Regions from separate parts of the Homo sapiens genome. Here region 1 is linked to region 2. The links come from fine-mapping of genetic effects on gene expression. A gene starts in region 2. The other region holds a variant in brackets. All regions are shown on one strand. Distances are from middle to middle. Region 1 overlaps SLC30A9 (solute carrier family 30 member 9). Region 2 holds the start of SLC30A9 (solute carrier family 30 member 9).

Evidence for each region. PIP is the estimated chance that this variant, and not a neighbour inherited with it, causes the effect.
Region 1: its variant is the best candidate, but not a certain one, in a credible set for the expression of SLC30A9 in nucleus accumbens (GTEx, PIP 0.57).

What each region holds. Positions count from the first base shown.
Region 1 is chr4:42,035,567-42,038,483 of GRCh38, reverse strand. The region is part of intron 7 of SLC30A9 (solute carrier family 30 member 9); the gene reads right to left. Among named protein-coding and RNA genes, the nearest start is that of SLC30A9, 46 kb to the right of the region's middle. The variant A/G (reference allele first, on the strand shown) is at 1,655.
Region 2 is chr4:41,989,302-41,992,218 of GRCh38, reverse strand. It overlaps SLC30A9 (solute carrier family 30 member 9), which reads right to left and starts at 1,689. Exons shown (of 18, transcript NM_006345.4): 1 at 1,459-1,689. The coding sequence starts at 1,567. RefSeq lists enhancers at 1,518-1,657, 1,938-2,017 and a silencer at 1,589-1,808.

The sequences.
Region 1 (2,917 bases), 46 kb before region 2:
GTTTTATTAAAATAAGAATATATTGTATTATTTGGATGAATAGAGAAAAAACTCAATGAAATTATTATGGGAACAATAGAATGCTGCTTACGGTGAAAAATAAGATTTCTTTAGAAGAAAGGTTTGGGAACTCATGGGAGGGGCAAAACAGGGAAAGGAAATGAGATCTTTAAGATCAGAATAAGAAATAATAAGAAAAATAAGGAAAAAGATTCACTCGGCCCAAACCACTCTAATAAAGAAGGCTGTAGAAAACGGGAAGATGTGTTGGTAGAAACTAGAAATAATGATAAGGTCCAAGGAACTCTAACAAGAGAATAAAAATCTAGAAAAACAAGAGATCACAAGGAGCCAGGATCCACAACCTGCTTGGGAAGCTTCCTGTAAAAGCTACTCAAAAATTCCATAATCAGGTCGGGCGCAGTGGCTCACGCTTGTAATCCTAGCACTTTGGGAGGCCAAGATGGGCAGACTGCTTGAGCTCAGGAGTTTGAGACCAGTGTGGACAACATGGTAAAACCCCGTCTCTACTAAAATACAAAAAAATCAGCCGGCTGTGGTAGTGGGTGCCCGTAATCCCAGCTACTCAGGAGGCTGAGGCATGAGAATCTCTTGAACCCGGGAGGCGGAGGTTGCAGTGAGCTGAGATCGTGGGCAACACAGCAATACTCTGTCTCAAAAATAAAATAAAATAAAATATTAAAAAATTCCATAATCAGAGCAATTGGAGAACTGCCCCTTTTTGAAGACCAGGACAGCAAAATGTTAGAAATTAATGAAACTGGATAGCCAATATCTATTTTTCTATTTTTATATATCTTTGAGAACATTCACAATAAACAAGGTTCTTTAATATTGGGACAAGTGCAGAAAATTTGGATAGATTTCAGAGAGAACTACCAGGAAAAGGAGCATAAATTGTTCAAAGCATTATTGGTGCATTTCAAGGTGATACTATTGTGGAGTTAAATATATTAAGCAGAGATAAAGGTACTTCCAATTCTCTGAAGTACTATATCAAGAAACCCATGAATTAGAAATAGAAGGGAAGGCATGGGAAAGTAGAAAGGTATTAAAGGGGAAATTATTATATAAGAAATTAAATACCAGAGGAGCAGACCCAGAACACTGTGATTTCATATATCTCATTATTGGAGTTCTCATGAGATAAGAATATATTGGAAAAACAAGTGTCTGGGTCAGAAATAACAAAAAAAAAAAAAAAAAAAAAAAAAAAAAAAAAAGAAGGCATTTAATTTTTGCAAACAGGATTAGCCCTATGTTTTAGAGAAGGAAAGCAACCATCTTCAGTGAGAGAACAACCATTCCTAAAGGGAATAGGGGTACAGTAGAGGGAAATGAAATACTAGTTTTATCCTAATGTCCCAGCAAAAAAACGTTGTAATAGCAAAAAAAAATCATTTCAAAACATGGAATATTCAAAAGTTGACCAGTATTAATCTTCTGAAGTAACAAAGATTTCATAAGTCAACAGCTACTATTAGAAAATCTGGTGAGGATGATTCTCCATGTGAAACAGATGTGAAGGCGAGGAGTGAATCTTCCCAGGAGGCAGGTCTCACCAGCCTAAGTTATCCCAGCACAAGAGGCAATGGCAATAGCCCTTGAGGCATGAGAGTGAAAATGCTGGCTC[A/G]TAAGACATATGAAGGCTCTACCAGAGGAGAGTCCACATCTTCAGGGCAGTACTGGGGTGCCAGAAATGCAGTGATCAAAGGGGAAATGGAAATTAAGAGGTCTTGAAGATAATAAATGGAAAAGGAAAGCATATCAAATAAGATTTGGCTAAAATTATCATCACTGCCAATGTCTAAACTTTGCAAAATGGGTGCAATGTCTCAAATGCCACCAGAGAGAAGAAAATGTGCATAGGTAGCCTTTTATCCAAATATGACATTAACTTCTTGATAGGAGATTCCTCCCAGCCAAGTTTAAATGGAAAGTCAACTTGGCCACAGACTGCTTGGCATCTTAAAGGTGCTGGGGACTTTGGTAAGTCATTTCAGTGGGGTGGTGGGGTTGAAAGCCCAATTGGATTAGGTTCAGGAGAAAATAAGAGGTAGAACAGTAGAGGCAAACTTTCTACATGTGTCCCAATATTAATTTCCTTCTAGTAGGAAGGAAAGCAGAGTATTTTGTCACATGTGTAGATGAGTTAGTAAATTTGGTGATGAAAAGATGAGGTGATGAAAAAGATGAGGTACTTTTATGAAATTACACCTATTTTTTCAATAAAATATGAAGCAAAGTCAACAGCTGAAGAGTAAAGAGTGAGGCTGTTGGCAAGAAAGAAAAAGATATGCAATAGCTATTTCAAAGAGTGGGAAGGTGAACATACTCTGGAAGTTTAGTAAGACTGTCAAATAATATTGAGTATCCATTGATTTTGTATAGTCATATAAGGAAGAAAGAACAATCACACTGGCTGTGTAATTTTCTTCTCCAAGGGCTAAGCTTCTTGGATACAAGCACAGAGTTGGCAGTCTGAATGTTGAACCAGAGTTAGGAGCAGAAAGAGAGAGGCTAAAGAAAATTAAGAGTGTGTATGACGGATATAAATCTCACTAAAACCTAAGAAAATAAAGTCTTCCTCATCTATATCTACATGCTTAAGGTTCATAACATGGTTATGACTTTAAAGAAAACTTATGTACAAATGTTTTAAATTTCAAGAAAATCAGGCCGGGCACGCTTGTAATCCCAACACTTTGGGAGGCCGAGGCAGGCGCATCACCTGAGGTCAGGAGTTCAAGACCCACCTAGCCAACATGGTGAAACTCTGTCTCTACTAAAAACACAAAAATTAACTGGGCATGGTGGCATGCCTGTGGTCCCAGCTGCTCGGGAGGCTGAGGCAGGAGAATTGCTCAAACCCGGGAGGCGGAGATTGCAGTGAGCC
Region 2 (2,917 bases):
TTACAGGCGCGCGTCACCAAACCAGGCTAATTTTTTGTAGAGAGGCAGTTTTGCCATGTTGCCCGGGCTGGTCTTGGAACTCCTGGGCTGAAGCGATCCACCCACCTCAGCGTCCTAAGGTTTACAATCTTCCTGAGGATTAGCAGCATGAGCCACTGCACCCAGCCGATGATTCATTCTGTCCATAAGGGAACCTGGCAGTATATTGCCAATATGGAAAAACTCAACAGTTACACTTTTCTATCACTACCAAAAAAGCCCTGGGAATAGTGCTGTTAAAATTTATCCGTTTGAAATTCTAAGATTCAGCTTTACATTTATTGCAAATAAAAGATACGAATATATTCTAATTTATATCCACAGCATAGTTACTATAGCTTATATTACATAAAATCTCGAATGACTGCAACTTCCGACTTCTTTCAGGAGGTCACGAACATGTTACAGGTTTTTTCAAACCTATGTTTTTACAGACAGCTCACTATGTTGCCAAGGCTAGCCTAGAACTATTGGGCTCAAAAGATCTGCCTGCCTCAGTCTCCCGAGTAGCTGGACTACAGGAGCGCACCACCACACCTGGCTTCGAACATGAATGTTTCGGTAAATACTCTCTGCATCCCAAGAATGGAGGGATTAGGTTAAGGGTGGACTTAGTTCTGTCTTCTCCCTCAGAGATCCTATCAGTTCTCAGTGTCAAGCAATGTGTGTCAAGCTACGGCAAAAACGAAGGTAAGCCTGATTAGTTCAATGTTATTTTGGAAACTCTCAAACCATTTAAATTTGAGTCAGAAAAGAATGTTGAGAGAGACGAAAATTCTCTTCAACCACCTTTTTTTCTGGGTTACCACTACAACTGCCACCTTTTCACCAAAAAGACTGCTCAGCCGAACTGAAGAGTTTCTTTGTTTTTCGGACCCAAACTGGGTTCATTCAATGATTGTCGGATACTTTCGTACTTCTTCCAAAAGATCCGTAGTGAGTAGCACCCCTCCTTCCTTTTAGAAAATTTAAGAAAATAAGTTGGGAGAGTAAGAAAAAGAAGGCCAAGAAAATCTCAACCAAGTGCTAAATGAAGGTGCGCTGGAAAGCTCCAAAGACCCTGGAACTTTGCGGAGTCCGCAATTTCCAACCGCGGAGGTGAGTAACCGCGGGACACCGCGATGCGCACGTAACATTTTGTTTGGTACAAAGCGGTAGGCTTCAGAGGTGCAATCCGGCCCGCGAGGTGCCCACAAGTTCCCGCGGGGGCCATGCTAGGGCTGCAGAAGGCATCAGAGTCAGAGACCTGTCAGGACCCCCGCGGGCTGCGCAGGCTGAACTGGAAAGGCGGAGGCCAGAAAGGAAGGTTCTGAGGTTGGCGAAAGGCAAGTGGGCGAATTGCCCCAGGCGAGGCGCCGAGCCCAGCCTGGCCCTCCAGTTCGGCTTCTACGGAGCCAGCGGCCAGCGCGGGACACTCACCCTGGCGGTCGCTGGGATTACAGGCCGCCGCCCTGCATCGCAGACGGAGCCGGCACAGGGAGGACCAGCTACATCTGTGGGCCGCGGCGGCGGCCAAGCCGGGTAACATCCTGGTGGGGCAGAGGCCCCTACTCGGACACCGCCTTCTGCCTCCGCGCCGCCACCGGTACCAACTGACTCCATAGACTGGACATCAGCGAACACCGATGGCTTCGCCGCCACAAGCTGCCTGGGTGACCCGGAAACGGCAACGTCATTTAGCGACGCCTGCCGTGGAGGTAGCGGAAGTGACGTAACACGTTGAGCACCAATAGGGAGGCCTTCCTTCCCGGGGACCCAGACTCCCAAAGTGGGGAGGGCGTGGCTGCAGGGGAAGTTTGGTGTCTGCCGTCTTCTTTTGCACCTGTACTTTTGCGCTTGGTTGGAAATCACGTAAACTGTTTACATCTTGTTCAGCCAGGAAAGCTGTCCTTTGGGAGTTCTACTTATTCCTTTTTTTCTGGACTCGAAACCGGGGCCGTGGTTTCGGAAATGGGAGGAAAGATGGGAAGGATGGACGCAGGTTTTCTGAGCCTCTCTACCTAGAGCCTGCCAGGATAAACCCAAATTAGAACCAACATGTCCAGTACTCTCCGAACGTCTGCCACGTACATCGTTCTCCTTGTTAACACCAGTGTGTATCCAGTATCATAAAGGCAAGTACACACTTCGGAATCAGCTACTTGCCCTACTAATCTGTGAACCTCAGATTTTTGCCTGCAATATAAGAGGTTTTATGTTCATGACAAGTTAGGGTAAACGGAGGTATGCAGACTTCGAAACATTTTGGTCCCAGGGAGAAAGAAACCTGAACAGTATCCACGTTAACTGTTTCTCTCTGCCATGCTCATTCAGCTCTTAACTCAAACTCAAGAGAGGCCTTCCTTGACCACCCTAGCTATGGTAGTCCTGGTCATTCTCTACCCGGCTGTCCTATATACTTTTCTTCAAAACGCTTATCACTATTTGAGATTTTTTTTTCTATTTTGTGTCCTAGAATAGAAAATAAGCATCATGATGCTGGAATCTTGTCTATTTTGTACATGGCTGTATAAAGCCGCTAAAACAATGCCTGGCAAAAATAAATTGAATGGAATGTATGGTGGTTTGTTTTAAAGTTAATCTGAGTCGCTTATCTATATTACTGCAAAATAACTATCTCGGGGAAATTTAGTATGTCCTTAATTTTTAAAAAAATCAACAAGTCTCTTATACTAATTGAGATAAGTATAACCAAATGAGGAAAGAGATTATCGTTAAGAATGGTAAGCAAATTTAATTTCCTATGACAAACATAACTTAAAATATTCAGTGGACAAACATTAAAAAATGATGTCCCATAAATGTAGGCTCAATATTACTAAAAAATCTGAATATTACTGGAAAGTTACTTTCCCTTTCTTGTAATAGATTTTAATAG